3 linked regions of the Homo sapiens genome follow. The protein of the gene in region 3 interacts with the protein of the main gene of each other region in a pairwise test. Each region holds a gene or a part of one and is shown on either strand. Other genes may lie near its edges.

The links.
Region 1: the proteins of NECAB2 (region 3) and C1orf216 interact in binary tests that used the Homo sapiens proteins (3 or more experiments, as listed by UniProt).
Region 2: the proteins of NECAB2 (region 3) and PRPF18 interact in binary tests that used the Homo sapiens proteins (3 or more experiments, as listed by UniProt).

What each region holds. Positions count from the first base shown.
Region 1 is NC_000001.11:35,715,866-35,723,187, forward strand, and holds the start of C1orf216 (UPF0500 protein C1orf216), read right to left. Parts: upstream 3,020-7,322; 5' UTR 2,842-3,019; intron 1,047-2,841; exon of another isoform or gene 636-1,046; intron 462-635; 5' UTR 457-461; coding exon 1-456.
Region 2 is NC_000010.11:13,589,961-13,596,983, reverse strand, and holds part of PRPF18 (pre-mRNA-splicing factor 18), read right to left. Parts: intron 5,217-7,023; exon of another isoform or gene 5,117-5,216; coding exon of another isoform or gene 5,096-5,116; intron 1-5,095.
Region 3 is NC_000016.10:83,992,243-83,999,265, reverse strand, and holds part of NECAB2 (N-terminal EF-hand calcium-binding protein 2), read right to left. Parts: intron 4,965-7,023; coding exon 4,846-4,964; intron 4,658-4,845; coding exon 4,578-4,657; intron 2,051-4,577; coding exon 1,997-2,050; intron 1,062-1,996; coding exon 949-1,061; intron 1-948. UniProt on the Homo sapiens protein: May act as a signaling scaffold protein that senses intracellular calcium.

The sequences.
Region 1 (7,322 bases), on a different chromosome or scaffold from region 3:
CTGCACAGCCTGGGCCACTGAGGGCAGAAGGGGATCGGGAGGGCCAGGGCCTCGCGGGGTCCCACAGGCAGGCTCAGGACTGCTGCTACGGCTGTCAATGCTCAGGGAACTGCTGGCATAGCCGTTGTCCTCCAGAGGGGAGCAGACTGTGCCAGCACCACCCATCTTCTCAGGCTCAGCCCCGGGAATCTCTGCCCCCTCTGGGGGGCTGCGCACCCCTTCCTCAGGGGATCCAGGGGCCTGGAAGGCTTGGTTGTCAGAGGGTGACTCAGAGGAGCTCCTCCTCAGGATAGGTTCCACTCTGCCTGGCATCCCATGCCAATTCTCGTTAGCATCCTTGGCACTTGCCATGAAGTTGGAGTTGCTGTCTGGTTGGAGCTCGGGCTGACATAATCCAGGAGGTGGGTCCCCCAGGAATTGGCCCCCCTCAGCTAGCCCTGGCTGGATGGCGAACATCTAGCCTGTAAAGGGAAAGCAGGAGACCGAGTCACAGTAGGACAGGGTGGGGTGCCTGAAGTCAGGGCAACTTAGCTGCAGGGACAAGGCTGCAAGCAAGAGCCTGGCCACTCCCTGTCAAGCCCTTTCTCTTGACTCTGGTAACACTTCCCTTCGTGGTTTTCGTCCTCCCTGTCTACCTGTTCATTCTCAGTCTCCTGCAAAGGGTTTTTCCTCCGTCCTCAGAGCCAGGCTGTCTTCTGATTTTGTGCATTTCTCTCCAGAGGACCTCATTCTCTGCTGTAGCTTCAAAGACCATCATATGCTGGTGACTCTCAGATCTGTCTTCAGCCCAGATCCAACTGCTATCCAACCCTGCAACCAACCATAGTCTCCTCAAATTCTACATAACCAGTCCAGGCATGGTGGCTCATACCTGTAATCCCAGCACTTTGGGAGGCCGAGGCAGGCAGATCACCTGAGGTCAGGAGTTCGAGACTAGACTGGCCAACATGGTGAAACCCCATCTCTACTAAAAATACAAAAATTAGCCAGGCATGGTGACAGGCACCTGTAATCCCAGCTATTTGGGAGGCTGAGGCAGGGGAATCACTTGAACCCAGGAGGCAGAGGTTTCAGTGAGCCGAGATTGCGCCACTGCACTCCAGCCTGGGTGACAGAGTGACATCATCCCCCTCCACCACCGCCCCCCGCCAAAATTCTACATAACCAAACAAGCTCTCCTTCAGTATCCTCAGCAAGATGGCTCTGTACTCCATCCAGAAAGCTGAGAGCATCCTGGGGTCCTCACTATCCTTCCTTCTCCCATCTCATTAATAACCACATTCTGACCATTCTTCCTCTTCCAGGCCATTTCTGACCTGGATTATTGCCTCGGCCTTTTCACTGATCTCTCTGCCTCCAGTTAAAAATGTAAATTTCACTTGTCACCACTCCTAATGCCCTCCCTGAATTCCTGCTAAACCTCTACCTGGCCTACAACACCCTGTTTGATCTGGCCCCTGCTCACCCCTCCATACCTGCCTCTTGCCACTCTGCCCCTCCCATCATAGCAAACTGCCCAGAGATCTCAAAACACACCATTGTTTTTCTTACAGTATTCCTTTGGCCTACAATATCCTTCCTCTCCCCTCCCCTCAAAGCTCCTCCCTTCTCCACCCAGCAAATTCCTTTTTGTACTTCAAAATTAGCTGTAATATCCCCATGTTTCCATGTCCCCATGTCTCTGAAGCCGTCTTGATACTGCCCCAATCAATATTACATAAACAAGCACGGTTAGTTATGCCTTCCTCTGGGTCCCCACTGCGCTGGGTATACACTGTCTTATCCAACTTTGCATCCGTCCCTGGCATACATGGTCGACGATCAGTGAATGTCTATTCAACTGGCATTTTTGGTTTGTGGTAATGATCTTGTAATAGCAGTTTGTAATCTGGCTTGGACCTCCTGTATATATCCTCCATCATATTCCCCAGAGTCAGCCAGCATAGAGCCCTGAACCAGGCTGTCTGTGCATACAGGTACTTGCTAAGTGAGTGAATGGGAGAAGAGACTGCAGTGAATTTCCATGCTCAGGAATCCACTCTTGACTCCCCAGGGCTGGAAGAGCTGGGTTCTGGAAGAGCTGGGTTTGGTTCCCTTTCCTACCCCAGCCAGGGAGCCCCGCCTTCCCCAGTGACAAGCTTTTCTTCTGAGCCTGCCCCCTTCCCTCCCAATGCCTCTGGAACACAGCCACTATCTTGCGGTCCCCGTCCCTAGCTTGCTCCATTCTGAGGCCCTGGAGGGAGGGCATACCACACCACTCTTCTCTCCTCCATAACCTGCTTCTAACCAAAATTAGGATTTGAACTGACAAAGGGATTCTACTGACCAAACAGCACTGGGATTAGAACAATTGAAGAGCATGAAGAGGAAGGGTATTGTAAGTGGAGCCGGCACTGGAAGGCGCTCCATAGGTGGCATGGACCCTCCCCACCCCCAGCAATGGGCAGAGAAGTCCTGGGGAGAAGGGTGTAGGAACAGTTCGTTTCTAATCGCCCTCTAAGCAAGGCTTGTGGGAAGGTGCCTAGAGATCTCCCCTCGCCCCAATTTTTTATTTTTCCTATACTTGGATGGGGCCGTGAAGGAAGCTGGGATGGGGTGGGGGTGGCGCTAGGGATCACAGGGTTCTCAGAGATAGTAAAATGAGAACCCCGACACGCCAGGACTAGGTCTCCGCCCAAACAGGAGGCAGCCTCCTTTTCTGGCCTTGCGGGAGTGGGAGACCACCCCAGGAGACAGAGACCATCCTTCCCTAGTCTCCTCGAAGGAGGCCACTGTGACTCCCCGCTTCCCGCGGCTGAGCCCCAAGCCCCACCCCGCCTCGGGCCCCAGACTCGGACTCACGGCGTAGAGGCGCCCGCTCCGGCGCGTCTGGCTCTGGCTCCGCCCGGCCCTGGTGGTGTCTAGTCCCTGGGCTGGGGGTTCCTCGGCCTGGGCGTCTCCGCGGTCCAGGCGTGGGTGCGGGGCTCCCGGGCAGCGCGCCCAGCCCCAGTCCCGGACTGCGGAGTCAGGCGGCGTCTGCGCAGCAGGGCGGAGCGACCGGTCCCACGTGGGCCGGTTCGGTTTTCCGCGGAGCCCCGCGCCAGGCCCCTGCGCCGGAACCGCTTCGCCCCCGCGCGGGGCCGCGTTGACCCAGGCCTTCCAGGTCCGGTGCTCTCTCCTATTGGCATTCGCTGGGCCCTTCCCATCAGTTAGCCTCGCTGCAGACACCGTGCCATTTTCAAGTGAAATCTGATTAGTCACCACCTTCCGGCGTTAAACTCCTCAATGGCTTCCCCACCGCCGGGACAACCCCTAAGGCGGTAGCCGCGGGGCTCTGTGCGTCCTGCCCTTCGTCTGCCTCTCCGGCTTCGTCCTCTACCCTCCCTCTCCGCAGTTACCCTCCCACACGCCCCTTTCCGCCACGCGGCTTTGGCACGCACTGTTCCCTCGGTCTAGCATTCTCTTCCCCCTCTCGACTTACTCCTATTTCAGATCTCTTCTCGGAGAGATCTCTGACTCCCTAGATCACGTTCGTTCCCCCCTTTATGTCAGAGCACATTCCTTTTCTTCATAGCATTTATCACAATTTGGAATTATATATTCCTTTTTGTGCTTACTTGACTAAAGTCACTGAGGCCGGGTGCGGTGGCTCACGCCTGTAACCCCAGCACTTTGGGAGGCCGAGGCGGGCAGATAACCTGAGGTCAGGAGTTTGAGACCAGCCTGGCCAACATGGTGAAACCCCATCTCTACTAAAAATACAAAAATTAGCCGGGCTTGGTGGCGGGCGCCTGTAATCCCAGCTACTTGGGAGGCTGAGGCAGGAGAATCGCTTGAACCTGGGAGGTGGAGGTTGCAGTGAGCCAAGACTGCACCACTGCACTCCAGTCTGGGCAACAGAGTGGGACTCCGTCTCAAAAAAAAAAAAAAAAAAAAAAAAAAAAAGAGAGAGAGAGAAAGAAGATCCAAGCCTGGGACAGGGCTCAGGGCTGATGTCCTGTACCCGGGACGGGGGCTCTCCGCAGGACACAGAGCCCACCCATGATGCCTGTGAAGTGGGTACCAGTGCTTTTGCCCAGGTGAGGAGGAACAGCGTGATAAAAAAGGGTCTTGGGTTCCAAACTCCAGTGGATTCTTCTCAGAGCTCCACTCTACTGAAGCTTGACCCCCCTCACTCTTTTGCACCCTGGGGAAATGTGAAGTTGGGGGCCCTGTTTGGAATAAAAGAGAACAGAGTTCAGTAATTGCTGACCCTAATATATGAGGTGCCCTCTTCCAGTTTCAATTTGATTCCAAGTCACCATTCTGCAACCTAGAGACTAATTGGCAAATTAAATCACACCAAGAAATCCTATATGCAAAAACAGGGAAAATGGAAAAGAAATTTTTATGATTATGATGACTATTTTAAAAGGGAAAAGGAAATAAGAAGGAGAAGGCAGAAGTAATTCAAACTTTGCACACTCCTCCAGCTAAGAAAATACAGGTGGAGACGTCAGCCCCATTTCTACATCAGATCCTGTGGCCTAAGTCTTCTCCCTTCCCTTATCCACTTCAGGTTCCCCTGGCCTTCAGCCTGGGGTGACCCAAATCCTCACTTTTTTTTTTTTTTTTTTTTTTTTTGAGATGGAGTCTCGCTCTGTCGCCTAGGCTGGAGTGCAGTGGCGCAATCTCGGCTCACCGCAACCTCCACCTCCCGGGTTCAAGCGATTCTCCTGCCTCAGCCTCCTGAGTAGCTGGGATTACAGGTGCATGCATCACGTCAGCTAATTTTTGTATTTTTAGTAGAGATGGGGTTTCACCATGTTGGTCAGGTTGGTCTTGATCTCCTGACCTTGTGATCCACCCACCTCGGCCTCCCAAAGTGCTGGGATTACAGGCGTGAGCCACCATGCCTGGCCCAAATCCTCACTCCTAAAGGCTCTCAGCTTTGGTGATCTAGGGTTATGCAGTTCTGCCCAGACCACAGAGCCATAAAGTCATCAATTGTTTGTTCTGCCCAGAATAGCCCTTCTCCGCCTCTCTTTGGACTCTGTCTCTCCCAGCTTAACCATGTGGGTCAAATGAAAGCCTGAAGAATCCAGGGATAGGAGCTCCACTCCAGGTGAGCCAGTCAGAGTCCTTCTCTGGGATCTTCTGAAACGAAATTAAAGGAAGACGAGGCAGGGAAGAAACAGAGATGAGAGATAGTTCTGATAATGTTGCAGACCCTGTTTCCTGCATCTAAACTTATAGTTTTGTATGCCTTATTTTGCCAAGCCTAACTTGAGTGGAATTTCTTTCACCGACAATTGAAAGAATGCTGATTACTACAATAGCACAAGGTGGTGACCCCAGGGTCTCTGGGTTCCATTCACGCACCTCTCAACACTTATTAGGTAACAGTAACTCCCTTTCTCCTTGGTAGCCATGATCAGTCCAGTCTACACTGAGACCACCCCCTTCTCCTATTCCTCTAGTGCTACCAGGAGCCGAAATCCCAGGGAATCATCTTTGTGTTTCTTGGTTAGAAGAAACATTCCTCCCATGATGCTATCACCATGTTTTGTTTTGTTTTTTTCCCAAGACAGAGTTTCACTGTCACCCAGGCTGGAGTGCAGTGGCGCGATCTCAGCTCACTGCAACCTCCGCCTCCCAGGTTCAAGTCATTCTCCTGCCTCAGCCTCCCGAGTAGCTGGGGTTACAGGCGCGTGCCACCACACCCGGCTAATTTTTGTATTTTTAGTAGAGACAGGGTTTCACCATGTTGGTCAGGCTGATTTCAAATTCCTGACCTCAAATGATCTGCCCGCCTTGACCTCCCAAAGTGCTGGGATTACAGGTGTGAGCCACTGTGCCTGGCCGATGCTATCACCTTCTGACCTGCAATACCCAGAATCTCAGAGACAGGAAGAAAACTCTTAGTCCTTAGGTAAATCATATAAGGTGCCACAACCACCGCTACCTCTTCTTGTTATGCATTCTGGCCACAAAGGACAAAGCATTATATACATTGATTTAAAGCCTATATTGGGCCTGGTGTGGTGGCTCACACCTGTAATCCCAGCACTTTGGGAGGCCGAGGCAGGCGGATCACTTGAGGCTGGGAATTCGAGACAAGCTTGGCCAACATGATGAAACCCCGTTTCTACTAAAAATACAAAAATTAGACAGGCATGGTGGTGCGCGTCTGTAATCCCAGCTATTCAGGAGGCTGAAGCAGGAGAATCGCTTGAACCCAAGAGGCAGAGATTGCAGTGAGCCAAGATCGTGCCACTGCACTCCAGCCTGGGCGATAGAGTAAGACCCTGTCTCAAAAAAAAAAAATTAAAATAAAATAAATAAAGCCTATATCGTGCTCTGCAGGGCAGCACCCCAGCCTGGAATAGCTGAGTCATCAATTCCATTGTTCTAAAAAGCTAGTTATTCCTTTTTTTTTTTTTTTTTTTGAGATGGAGTCTCTCTCTGTCACCCAGGCTAGAGTGCAGTGGCATAGTCTTGGCTCACTACAACCTCCACGTCCTGGGTTCAAGCAATTCTCCTGCCTCAACCTCCTGAGTAGCTGGGACTACAGGTGCCCGCCACCTGGTGAATGTTTGTATTTTTAGTAGAGGCAGGATTTCACCATGTTGACCAGGCTGGTCTCAAACTCCTGACATCAGGTGATCTGCCTGCCTTGGCCTCCCAAAGTGCTAGGATTTCAGGCGTGAGCCACCACACCTGGCCTAAAGCTAGTTATTCCTAAATAATACAATACCTGCTAAGTCAAGTGAATTCATTTAAAGGAAATCAGATTGTAGTCTCTCTCTTTCTTTTTTTTTTCCCTGAGACGGAGTCTTACTCTGTTGCCCAGGCTGGAGTACAGTGGTGCAATCTCCATTCATTGCAACGTCCGCCTCCCAGGATCAAGCGATTCTCATGCCTCAGCCTCCTGAGTAGCTGAGACTACAGGCGTGTGCCACTGCACCGGCTAATTTTTGTATTTCTAATAGAGACAGGGTTTCACTATGTTGCCCAGGCTGGTCTCAAATTCCTGGCCTCAAGTGATCTGCCCACCTCGGCCTCCCAAAGTGTTGGGATTACAGGCGTGAACCACCACACCCAGCCTGTAGCCAGTTTTGTTAATCAAGGGCAGTGTTGTATGGAATATTCTAGCACTGTATAATTAATACAGTCAGTGCTCACACAGCAGTCCTGGTCACTCCATAATTTTCAGAGCTCAAAACCTGAAGAAAAAAAAGCTCCAAATGCAGGGATGTCCATGTCCACAGGAAGACAAAAAAGCAGCTATAGAGATGCCTGTTATTCATTTGCCAGAGGCTTTTCCAGTGAGGACACCAGAGAATAATTCACCCCCAAGTGAA
Region 2 (7,023 bases), on a different chromosome or scaffold from region 3:
GGAACCTTATTATATCAATCAGTTCTTAAAATAATCTACATATAGGGTGGTCTTGGTGAACTCTTTTATTTAAAAAATGATTTAAGGATATTTGGGGTTTTTTGTGCGTTTTTCTGGTTTTCTGTTTGTTTTGGAGACAGGGTATCTCTCTGTCACGCGGGCTGGAGTGGAGTGGCACAATCAAGGCCACAACTTCGACTCCCTGGGTTCAAATGATCCTCTCACAAGGTATTTGTTGTGATATGATTTGATGTAAAGAGACAAGCTCTAAATCTTGTCTGTGGCTAAAAAGATGTCAGTCCTTTCCACATTATACATAAAATTATCCTTATTGTTACATCTACAGTCCGTAATTTGGAGGCTTGTTGCCATCGCAGCTCTGCCTCTTGGATATTATTCCAAAGATGGCTTTGTTCAAATAAAGACACTGTCCCCGACTGTATTAACAGTAATGATATAATATTACCTGTGTACTACCTCCACACAAGTATTTAGCACCTCATAGTTCCAAAGCTCATTCACTCAGACAATGATCATCAATGGATGCTAAAACCTTATGAAAAAGGCCAATGGTGACAATGGAAAGATGAGCCTGCCACCATTTGAACCCAATGATCAAGCTTGACATCAGTAAAAGATTATGTACCACCTATGTTATACTACAGGAATTACCCAGCCATCGTCTACGAAGTATCCTTGTTAAATGTAGGGAAGAGAGGAATTAACTAAGTGTCAATATGCCAGGAAGCAATTACACAAATCAAAGACATTTTACAAAACTAGCCCCAGTTTCTCCAGCAAGTCAATGGCATGGAAAAAATCAGCCAAGTTGAGAAAATGACAACGTTCTTCATTAAAAGAAACCAAGATTCATAATAAGCAAATGCAAGGATTGAACTTCGTGTTGACCTGACTTGAAAAACCAACTGTAAAAGCAAATGTATGTACATATTTTAATTCAGTTGGAAAATATACGAATGTGAGAAGAGTATCTGATAAAATTAACAAACTAATTTTAATTTTGTTGGGTGTGATCATATTTTGGTTTTAAAGGAACATGTCATTTTCTAGAGCTGCATGTTTCAGGGGAAGGATATACAGGGGCTCATCATAAAATTTTATCTATTTTTGTATTATGTTTAAAACTTTCAGAATAAGGTTTTTCTAAAAGTTCATTCCTTAATTCAATAAACATTTCCAGACTTATCTACCACACAACAAGCACAGTTTTACGGAAATAAAGATGAAGATGTTATCTGGGGTAAGGAACCGATGGTATCATCTGAACATCAAAACTACCCTGAGTACGGTGGGGGCAAATAGTATTAACCCCTTTTTAGAGATGAGAACGCTGAGAATTAGGTTAGGTGACATTCCCAGAACTCAGGAAGAATGATGAGTAGCAACTAGAACTCTGGTCCTTAAACCCTTTGTTCTGATCTAGTCTTCCAAGCTACAGTTCTTCACTCCCAAAATATTATTTCGGCATCTAAAATTGTTTTTGACTAGGTAGTATATAATTGTCATATTTCAAATAAGTTGGCAAACACACATTGGTATCCTCTCAGAAAGGGCTGTGTAGAAAGAAAGGAAAAAACACTCTCCAGGCCGGAGGCCATGGTCCAATCTTTTTAACTATGTTATCTTTGATGACCATGTCTCAATTCCATTGAACACACCTAACAAAATCTCAAGCCTAGAACATCTCAAAATGTGGTCCACAGAGGCTCTTTCAGAGGTTTTGCAAGGTCAAATTTATTTTCATGATATACTAAGACATTATGTGCCCCGTTTTCATTGTGCTCAGATTTGCACTGACAGTCCAAAAGCAACATGGGGGGAGGATTTGGGAAGGGGGACTACTGGCATCAGCAAAAATAAAGGCAAGGCCTTCAAACTGTATTCTTCACCAACATGCACTTACAAAAAAATAAAAAGTCTAGTTTCTCTTAAGAATGTCCTTGACGAAGTATAATTAGCATAATTTTCCTAAATCTCAACCTTTGAGTACACAGCCTTTTAATAATCAGCATGAAAAAATAAAATGTATAAAGCACTTTTGTTACATACTAAAGTAGAATGGTTTCCTCAAAGAAAAGCACTTGTGCAATTGTTTGATTAGTCAGATTTGGGTGTTTGGTAGACATTTTCTCAGAACTGAACAAAACAAGCTTAAAGCTAAAAGAAAACAATGATAGTATTTACCACCGATGATAAAATTCCAGCTGTCAAGTGAGAACTGGAAAAGTGGAAAACTTGTACCCACCACCAGGAGCTTAATAGCTTCCCAATACTTGAAGCCTTTTCCAATGAAATCAGTGGTGATATTAATGAGATTTTTTAATATTATCTAATCAAAAATGTCAACATTAAGAAGATCTGCATAATTCACTGAACCATGACATTACAAAATCAAGATGTTACAAAATCACATCTAGGTAAAAAGATCCATTCAAAGAGCAAAATAGAACAGGCTTTAATGTATGAAAAGTTCATTGAAATGATTTCAGAATCCACATTGCAACTGATCTTTAAGAAACCAATTGTCTAGTTTTGGTGTAGTATCAAGAAGAATATCCACAATTATCTGAAAAGGCTATTAAGATACTCCTTTTTCTAACTACTTATCTGTGGATGAATTTTCTTCGTGTACTTGAAAACAACATACAGCAACAGACTGGAGAGAGAAATAGAATCCAACTACTATGCCAGAGGTTTCTAAAACAATGTCACTTTTCTCACTGAAGTGTTTGTTTTCGCAAATATAGTCTTTTCATAAAAATATCTGTTAGCATACTATGGGTTTATTATTGCATTTCTACATGGAATATACATTTTGTAATTTCCTGGCTTTAATTTCTAATACGGTAATTATCAATAAATGTGTCCTATGTAAATAAAAGCTCTCTGGGTCTATCAATAATTGAGAATGAGACCTGAGACCAGTAAGTTTAAGTCCACTTGGCGTTCTCCATGCCTATAGCATGCGCAAAACAATGCTGGCAAAAACCACTGGGGCCTCAACATTGCCTATTGGTCCTGGGGTATTTACCCATTTCATTTTCTTTCCTATTGTCTACACTGACCATTCCACTGTCTCCATTCTCACGAATTTCCCATCCTTTCATTCTCCCCTCATTTTCAGCAGATGACTAAACCATCTCATTTTATGGAAGCAACCAGTCAGGAACTCCTCCAAATTCCTCCCAACTCCAGTCATGAGCTGGATCTTCATTGGTCCTTTCATTTCACAGTGAAACAGAGAACCCTCCTCTGTCTGTCTAGGGCAAATCCCTTGCCAATTACTCCAGACCTCAATTCCTCAGGGACTTCTCACCATCAATGCTGTTTTCTCCTTCGCATATTCATCCTTCCCCTCTCTACTGGCTCTTGACAATTATAATTTAAGTATGCTCAAGACTCTGCCCTGGGTATCATTTACAGCAGAACCACATTAAACTGTTTAATCTAATCCGTGTCCACTTCCTTACCCCCAATTCTCTTTGCAGCCCCACAGCATGTGGACATCCATTCTGTTTCACTGAAAAAACCTCCTTGGGGTCATAAATAATGTCTAAGATACAAATCCAAAGAGACTTCTCTGACTGATCTCATCCAGTCTTCGATTTAACTGCTCATTCCTTCCTTCCTTCAGTAACTTTCTCCTCTTAGCTGACAGATTCTTCTTATGTCTTCCTCACTTACTGGTTTGCTTAGATTTTCTATTTCTTGTATTTTTTTGTACTTTTTAGCCATTTACTTCACTTAGATTTTCCAATGTATTAGAACTAGTATACAGTTTTCCTTACTAATTTTATTTTCCAATGTCTCCCATGTTGGTTCCTGCCATTCCTTCCATTGGTCCTTCATTTCAGAATGTTTTGTATAATGTGGGGTAGGGGTTGTTGCTTATTATTTCCGTATGGATATCCAGTTGTTCAGCATCATTTACTGAAAATATCTTTCCTTCCATTTGGTTTTAGTGTATTTGTCAAAAATCAATAATTGTGTAAGGGTGGCTCCGTTCTGGGTGCTCTGTTATACTCTAGTGGTGTTAGCTGTTGCTCTTTATGCCAGCGCTATGCTGTTTTGATTATTGTAGCATTGTTACTGCAGCACAGCATAGTATCTTGCATATAGGAAAGATGCAGTAAATACTGGAAGGAAAAAAAGCTAAAATTCTGCACATAGCTCATCCTCATAACTACAACTAGTAAAACTACTAATTACTCCCCATTGAGTTTCTAGAGCAGCCTGGTTTTCCACACGAGGTTTTGCATTAAATGAAAACTCACCAATTCTAGGCTCCAAAACACTGGTGTTCTAGCAATGCAGACACATTTACCTCAGGGTGGTTACACCAGGCAGGGCACTTTAGGACAGGTGGTAAGAGGATATCTTAGTCACTTCTCTGCAATTTGAGAAAGAGGCACTCACAAGCTAAGTACTGATTATTTCAACTATCACAGATTAACCACAAAAAGCTGGGACACCACTTGAAATGACCAAAGATGAGGTGGCTCTTCTTTCTGCAAGAGCAACACCACACAGACAACTGTTTTCCAGCTACAGATGCGGTAATGACAACAATCTACTGATCCCTGACCCGTGTTTTCTAAAAAATTAAAACAAAGGGACTTGCTCTTCCCCATCTTGTAAGATGGTGGGTGAAAAAGTTGAGAAGCCGGATACTAAAGAGAAGAAACCCAAAGCCAAGAAGGCTGAGGCTGGTGACAAGGTGAAAAAGGGTCACCTCAAGGCTAAGAAGCCCAAGAAGGGGAAGCCCCATTGCAGCACAACCCTGTCCTTGTCAGAGGAATTGGCAGGTATTCCCGATGTGCTATGTATTCCAGAAAAGCTGTGTATAAGAGGAAGTACTCAGCCGCTAAGTACGAGGTTGAAAAGAAAAAGAAGGTTCTTGCAACTGTTACAAAACCAGTTGGTGGTGACAAGAATGGTAGTACCCAGGTGGTTAAACTTCATAAAATGCCTAGATATTTTCCTACTGAAGATGTGCCTCAAAAGCTGTTGAGCCATGGCAAAAAAAAAAAAAAACCCTCAGTTGACACGTGAGAAAACTGCGAACCAGCATTACCCCGGGGAACGTTCTGATCATCCTCACTGGATTCCACAGAGGCAAGAGGGCGGTCTTCCTGAAGCACCTGGCTAGTGGCTTGTTACTTGTGACTGGACCTCTGGTCCTCAATCGAGTTCCTCTATGAAGAAAACACCAGAAATCTGTCATTGCCACCTCAACCAAAATTGTTATCAGCGATGTAAAAATCCCAAAACATCCCACTGATGCTTATTCAAGCAGCAGCAGCTGCAGAAGCCCAGACACCAGGAAGCTGAGATCTTCAGCACAGAAAAAGATAAATACAAGATTACAGAGCAGCACAAGATTGATCAGAAAGCTGTGGAGTCACAAATTTTACCAAAAATCAAAGCTATTCCTAAGCTCCAGGACTACCTGCGATCTGTGTTTGCCCCGACTCATGGAATTTATCCTCACAAATTGGTGTTCTACATTTCTTAAGAAGAACCTAATTAAATAACTGATAACAAAAAAGGAGGACTGAATAAAACATGATAAAATCATTTGTGGTTGTAAGAATTATTTCATAAAACTTTTTTCACATACATATCAGATCAATATATAAAAATGTATTGCTATGAACGGGGCAGTGAAAAAGTCTGTAAGTTACTGACAGACACTGTGATGCAGAAAGATGAAAAATATAAAGCAACTATTCTGCATGAAATGATAGAGCTGCAGATCTAAAGACTGTCTTCCCATGGATACAACAGAAAAGACGCCTAGTTGTGTATGTTCCCTTACATCATGCAAGAGCACTCACCCTCAAGTTGGTCTAAGACTTGAGATCTATCCCGGCTGGCCACAGGAATATGAGAACATCGTGTAACCCTCTAAGCCTCAATTTCATCATCCATGAAAACAGCATTGCCTTGTGCACTAATTAACCGTTGTAAAGCTCAAATCAGATAGCATATAGCACTTTGAAAAATATAAATCATGTTAGTCTAATAATTTTCCAGTGCTTTGTTACATTAGCCCTATCAAAACTAGTTCTATGTTTGTAAGGTGAATAAATATCCATTCTATCTGTACAGGTTAACAGATCAGGCTCTGAAGTAGGAACAGACCAGGGTTCAAATCCAGGCTCTATCTCTTGCTAGCTGCATAATCCTATAGTCATGTAACTTCTCTTAGCTTCCAGTTTCCTCATCTGTAAATGGGAACAATGGCAACTTGTTGTACAAGTTAGAAAACACATATTGCATGATGCCTAACATTACTGCTAATATAAACTATGAATGTCAGTATTTTTTTTTTTTTTTTTTGAGATGGAGTCTCGCTCTGTCGCCCAGGCTGCAGTGCAGTGGCACAATATCAGCTCACTGCAAGCCCCGCCTCCCGGGTTCACGCCATTCTCCTGCCTCAGCCTCCTGAGTAGCTGGGACTACAGGCACCTGCCACCATGCCCAGCTAATATATATATATATATATATTTTTTTTTTTTGTATTTTCAGTAGAGATGGGGTTTCACCGTGTTAGCCAGGATGGTCTCAATCTCGTGATCTGCCCACCCCAGGCTCCCAAAGTGCTGGGATTACAGGCGTGAGCCACCGCGCCCGGCCGAATGTCAGTATTTTAATTCCCATTTCATGTACGCCCTTTGTTGGTCTGAACTGCTCTGTGATTGAAAAAATCAATCTTATCTTCTGGCTGGAATTATGTGATAATTCAATCAACTACCAAATTAAAAAATGAAAGACACCCAGGAAAAGTTTATATATTATAAATTATAAATGACCCTGAAGAATCTAAAGTTTTTTTTTTAATGATCATTTTTGTAGATTGGTGCATTTCAATGACGAAGAACATGATTATGCAAATATTCATGTTGTGAACCTTGAGGGTGGGCTGAATATTTTGTGATTCACTTTTCCCTTTAAAGCACTTAGATTTCAACACCCTGGCCCTTCCTAACATCCACTATG
Region 3 (7,023 bases):
CTGGCTACTTACTCAAGAATGGCCCCTCGTGGCCACGCCGAGTCTCGGGAACGGCCGCACTCCTGCCCAGGCTACTCCTCCCCTCGTGCTACAGGTCAGGCTGTTGTCACTCAAGCCTCAGTGCACAGGGGGCCCAAGAAGACCCCTCTCAAAGACCCTGTGCTAGGACCTGGCCTGCCTGGTTCACAGCCATGTCCCCAGGCAATGGGGTGAATGAGTGTGTGCTCTGGGGATGGAAGAAAGCCCTGGGAAGGGAGTTGGGCAGAGCCTTGCTGCAGAAACGGGGGGCGGGGGACCACTACCAGCAAGAACAAAGGGCTGTTGTCTTCTGCAACCCCCTCCACTCTGGCCCTGGCCACATGCCTTAGCTTTACCAAGGAGCTACATCAGCCTGGTGGGATGAACAGGAATTTGAAGGTAAGGCCGCTTGCCCCGCCCTGGACATCTCAGCACATCAGGGGGAGAAGGGCAACTACATGACTTGGGCATTTCCCTTCAGCTACCGACTCTCCTCTCCTTCCTCAGTGGTTAACTGAGCAAATACTACATTCTGGGCCTGGACTTAAGTGTGCAGGAACCCCTGTGACAGCAGCAGCTGAGGCTGACTGAGCGCACGGGGCACACCAGGCCCAGCTGGAGCCCTTCACACTTGAGATTCACACACTTGATTGTATATGCACTCATGATCACCCCAGCAAGGAGTCCTGGGGGTGGTCCCCCCTTTACAGATGAGTAAGCTGATGCCAGGGAGATGAAGACACCTGCCACATTTGCTTGGCTGGGAGGAACCTCAGTAGAGACCTGAACCCACTTCTTACGCATCCAGCTGTGTGTGTCCCTGGGGTGCAACTTGTACTACTTAGGGCAAAGCCTAGTCCTGCCCTGTTCCTCCACTGCCAGGCAGAGCTCCCTGCCACCATCCCACCCACGCCTCGGCAGCTCACTCACTGGAAGCAGTTCCTCACGCCAGTGGTCCCCCGCAGATACTGGCGCAGAGAGTCCAGAAACTCGCTCAGTTGCTCGGGGCACACGGCCATCTCCTGCCGGACCAGCTGCAGGTGCTGCCGGGCACAGCAGGAGTCAGTGTGGGGCTCCACGTCAGGCCTTCTCCCTAAACACCCCATCAGGCCCCCATGACCTCCCTTCCTCGGTCAAAATAAAATAACCCTCCCCCACTTTTCATTCTTACCCATGAATGGATAAGAATGGACTAAAAATGGGCTAAGAAAGGACTAGAACCTCAAGAGCCCAGTGCAGAAGTAGCCCCCAAAAATGGGGAAAACAGACGAGGTTGTTTACAGAGGCCCCATCCATGTCCACAACCACCTGCACAGCCTCCAGGGCCTGGAGACACAGCACATCCACTGACAAGAAAAACTCATAGTTGATGGACTCAGCATTTTCACATCACTGTCTGGCTGATCACTTTGCTCTATGCCAAACCTTTTTTGGATCAAAGTCCAGGAGCCTCTGGGCCAGGTGTGGTGGCTCACGCCTGTAATCTCAGCACTTTAGGAGGCCAAGGTGGGCAGATCATGAGGATAGGAGTTTGAGACCAGCCTGACCAACATGGTGAAACCCTGTCCGTCTCTACTAAAAATACCAAAAAAATTAGCCAGGCGTGGTGGCACACACCTGTAATCCCAGCTACTCAGGAGGCTGAGGCAGGAGAATTGCTTGAACCCAGGAGGCAGAGGTTGCAGTAAGCCGACATCCCACCACTGCACTCCAGCCTGGGAGATACAGCAAGACTCCATCTCAAAAAAAAAAAAAAAAAAAAAAAAAAGGTCCAGGGAGCCTCAAGAAATACCCCCGGAGTTGGTGGGGTGGCTCCTGTGCCAGGGCAGGGTCTGGGTGCCAAGCGCTGGGCGACATCTCCCCTCCTGGTGGTCCCAAGCAGGGAGAGCGGGGTCAGGGGCATTGAGCCACTTGGATCTTGGCAGTCCTGGCATGGGTAGGGATGTGGTCCCAGAAGAGAGGTGGGAAGGGGCCTCACCATGTTGGTGCCATCTTCATCTGACAGGCGCTGCTGCAGGTCGAACCACAGTGCCTGAAACAATCCAGCACACAGTGATGCTAGACCCAGAGCCCCACTCCGCCCCGGGGAGCCAGGAGCTCTGGGATCCCTGGGGCTGTTGGGAGCTCCCAAGGACCCGGCCCTGTTGCACAGGGCTGGGAGACCAACGCTAGGAAGTGGCAGAGACTCCCTCTGGCCTACAGGGGGCCTAGAACATGTTGCTGGGGTGAGGATGGCTTGGGAGAGGCAGCAAGGGGGACTCCAGAGGCCTGAGTCCAAGATGCTGGGGTTTGCCACTATGATGAGCAACAGCCCTTAGATTCCCTGTAACTTATAATTCACCCCAAATCATAACCCCCAGCACCTCAGGGATCTAATGGGGTGAACTGTTCTCTCTGGTCTTCCCCAGACTCTAAGCTAGATGGTTTACAAATACACAATCTTCCAGACTCCCCAGGGAAGGTGCTGCCCCACTGTAAGTTTCGGTCTCCAGGAACCACATCTGCTCTGTTCGCCCACGACTGGTGCCCACACAGGGCTGAGCCCCCACAGAAGATCAACAGTCACTATGTCACGGCAGAGAACCCCGGCTCTGAAGGCACGAAAGCCATGTAAGTGTCAGAGCGTGGGTCTGAACCCAGTGTGTCTACCTGACGCACAGGCTCATGCTGCTGCTTCCTTCAGCTTGGGCACCCCACTAACCACCTCTGTGGCTATCTCTGTCCATCCTCCATGAGGACAGACCATCTACGGGAGTCACACAGGGCAGCCACAGGTAAAGCACGCCAGCTAATAAGGAAAACAGCAGCAGGTGGATGAGTCTGTGTAGTCACCACCGTGACGTTCTAAATGTTTGAGCAAGGGACCTTGCACGCTCATTTTGCACTGGGCTCTGTAGTAGCTGATCCTGGCAAGGGTACTGCCTTCTGGGGGCACACAGCATGAACACGCCTTGGTAAGTGGTGAAGGTGTGCCTGGCAGGAACAAGTCTGTTTCCATGGTTTTACAAGCATACGTGAGGGGTCCTGGGGCTGGAAAAGCCATAGGAGGATGAGGAGAGGCACTGTGGCCCCTGTATCTGCCCCATTCTTCTCCCAGCCAGGGGCCCCTAGAGCCTCCATCCTTCCAGCCCAGAGGCAGCTCCGGTTGGCCGGTGAAGGGCGGGGCCTGAAGCCAGGCCCGGATTGGCCCCTGCTGACCGCCCGGGCCAGTTAGAGGCTGGGGAGGAGGACCTGGTCCCACCCCGTCTCCAGGACGCCCAGGTACTCCGTGGTTACCAGCCAGCCTGGTTGTTAGGGCGACGGTGCTCTAAAAATAAGCTTCAGAGTCTCCCTCCCGAGGCGCCCGCTGAGTTGTTATGACAACCGGGCCACGGGGTCCCCTCCGAGCCGCTCCCGCAGCTGGCTTCAGGAAGGGGGTAACTCCACCTCAGCCTCATCCCTGCAGGAGGGGAAGTTTGAGCTTCCTCCCTCGGACTTCATTCCACGTCAGCCTCTGTCTCCCTCCATGCGGGGAGCCCCTTGTTCCTGCCCCCATGAATGCCTGAGAACCCCCAAACTAAAAGTAGCAATACCCTTTACAAAGGGTGTAAAAAAAATACACAAAAGTAGGAGAAACATAAAACCACCTCAATCCCAGGGTTCTGAGAGCTCAGTTACCTTGGCTTATGTGGGTATACGGGTGTGCTGTGTGCATGTGGATAGGTTTGGGTAACAGAATGCCTCATAATAATTGCTAACATTGCTAATATTAAATGCAAGCTACAGCACCGGGCCCTGTGCTAAACCGGAGACATCATTTTGGTTCATCCTAACGACACCCCTATGAGGGAGGGGTCCCATGCTCCAGGTTATTTTCTTGATTATCAGAGGAGGAATCTAAGCCTCAGAGAGGACAAGTCCCTGGCCCAGGGTCACACAGCTATGAAGTGGCACAACCAGAATTCTGACTGATACCTGAGCCCATCTGTCTGTAGGCCCTAAGACAAACTTTTCTTTCCACCAAATGGTCATATTGTGAGCACTCTATCCCGAGTCACGAAACATTATCTGAAAATGTTTTCTGTAAGGGCTGTGCCATTTTCTATCACCTGTGGACGTCCCATATCACACTTAATACATTTGCTACTGCTGGTCACTTCCTTCCTTGTTTTGAAACTCTCTCGAATCATCACGTCTCTCTTTCATCCTGGTGCTGCCTTTCGGCCAATATCTGCTCCAGCCACTTCAGAGCAAAGTCTCCTTGAAGCTAGGGCCTTGCAACACGGGACCCTGCTGACCACCCTCTGCTCCTGGAGCTGCTCCTGCTGCCTGCAGGCCCGCCTGACCCCCCAACACTCTCTCTTCCCAGGCGCCCCTCCTTGGGCCTGAACAACACGAGCATCCCCCGGGGTTTGATCCTTAGCTTCGTCCTCGGCAGCTCCACGCCCCACCTGGGGGATGTCTTTTTCATGGTTCCCTGGCCCCTCTGCAGCCCAGACTTTTGTCCTGAACTCCAGGCTTAACTCTGCACTCCCTCAGGGGTTGGAAGGAGTAGACGCCGTGGTCAGGCCAGGGCTTACTTTGCTCTCCAGCCTCCCAATCAGCTCTGCCAAGCGGCTGATCTGGGCTTCCAGACCCTCTTCCTTTGCATCCTCCGTGGCTGCGGTAGAGAAAGAGACACACAGACTTCAGTGGTGGGCAGGACGAGGGCTTCGGGGGGAAGCTGGAAACATCCAGCCCCTCCAGGGGCATCAAACTTGCTCATCTCCCCAGTCCCTGTCAGAGGACTCTCAGAACTCCTCGGGACCCCCAGCTGGTACCCCCACCAGGGCCCCCGCTTTCTCTCACCAGATGGAAGGGTCTTGCCTTGTTCCATAGCCATGAGCTTGTGGTTGGGGGCAGAGGCGGGAGTGGGGCTTCCACACCAGGTCTGTGCCGCGCTGTGGCTGGGTTTGATGTGGTTCTGTCTGCAGTTTGGATGGGAACACACACAGACCATGGCGGTGGCTTCAGGGCCCTTACCACTTCCAGCATCTTCCACAGGCATTTATTACGCAAGACAGTGGACTCACACATGCACAGAACTTGCATCATGGCCTTTGTTTTGACAGAGGAGGAAATGAGGTTCTTAAAGCAGGTGACTCAGCCAGGGCCACGCAGCTAGCTGGGCAGAGCTGGGATTCGAATTCAGCTCCATTCTAGGACCCCACGGCCTAGGCCTTTTCCCCAAGAGATTCAGTTCCAGAGTGAGGCTGAGCCAGGGACCCACCCCCACTCTAACAGCTCGAAGCTTTCGGGCACGTGTAGAGCCCAAGCTGTGGAGTGACCAAGTCCCCCTCCCTCCCTCATGATAGGCCCATTTAATGTTTGGTGCCCTCTGGGGTGGGGGACCTGGTTTCAAGACCCCCCTCCAACACATACACATAAAAGCGAGACCTAAAGAGACACTGACAGTCGGGATGTAACAGGACAGAAACTGTGATCCTGACCTGGGCCTGGCCCCATCTCCCGGCCCTGGACACCCCTCTCCTGTGCATACTCATGTGCATACACACCCCTGCGTGCCCTGACAGGCACAGCTAGCCACAGGCAGAGGCAGACACACACACACACACACACACACACACACACACACACACACACACACAGCTCACCTTGCACTGTGTCCAGCACATAGTAGGGACTCAAAAATGCTCAATGAATGACCAAATCCTCCCATGCAAAAGGATGCTGAAAAGCTCCTGGCAGACATACAGAAACACAGACACTCCCCCAGAAGACACACAGAGTGCCCTGTGCACGGCCCCAACACCCGCTTGGTCTCTGTGCATCGCGGTCTTGGTGCATTCTGGAATTTGTCTCTTGTGAACCTTGAACACTCCGCCAGGCTCTCCCCCTTGCGGAGGGAGCAAACTCGACTCCCGCCTTGGGAGGGGAGAGGCTGGCAGAGTCTTTATGGTGTCAATCATGGCTTCTCTATAAACCAGCAGGAAATTAAATGTATCCCTCAGACCATGACGGGTTGCTCAGGGCTCCCGGGTGGTGGGGTCTGAGCCAGTAGCCTGTGCTAGAGGTGACATCCTGGGAGACTGTCCTGGGGCTGGGAAACAGGATAGTCCTCAGGGACCCACAGCCTAGAGCCAAACTAGCTGAGATTTGGGGAAGTTCGAGGGAGGGGCATGTGTGGAACAGAGGTATCACGACAAGCTGCCCCGTCTGACAACATCCCCAAGTAAGGTCCCCACCATGGGGGCAGGTGGGTGTAACTGCTGACGCGTGATGGAGCTGACCCAGTGTGGGAAGTCTGCCCTGAAAACTGCGCAGCCATACTATCTGTTCTGCGGCAGGAGAAAAACAGCAAGTTTTTCATCAAGATAGTAACAGGAAAACCCAGGAAATCTAAGTGTCAGCTTTTTTCACAGCGATGGCTGCTAATTCTGGGGCACCCAAGAATCACAAGACTGACCACATGTGCAGAGTTCTGGGCTCCAGTCCAGGGATTCTAGCCAGTGAGTATGGCCAGGAGCCCAGGAATGTGTATTTTAATTTTCCCAGGTGATTCAGCGCAAATGCTCAGATCAAACTCATTTGGGAAACAGTGTCTCAGAGTTACCTTCACAATCATGTCTGATCAGGACCAGCTCTTCAACTACGAAGAAACACACGATCAAACCCCAGTCCCCCAGCAAACCAATATCCTGGTCCTGAGGTACCTCTCTGCCTGGAAAATTAAGGGCTCAATCGAGCTTGGGTGCCGACACCTGGCTGTTTCCCTCATCTGTTTGCATTTTCTCTTTTTCTTCTGTGTCAAGCACATCAGCTGTTCTGGGAAGAACTGAGCAAAGAAGGGTTTTTCTCAATTTGAAACAGCAAATGGAGGTGGGCGGGGGGACGGGTGCTCGTGTTCCCCGGGAGATGGGACTGCTGAGCCACGAGAATGTCGCTCCTCTCTAAATACCAGGTCACACCCCTAACACAGCAGCCACCACCTAGGATGGGACCCCAGATGCATTCCCATGGTTCCAA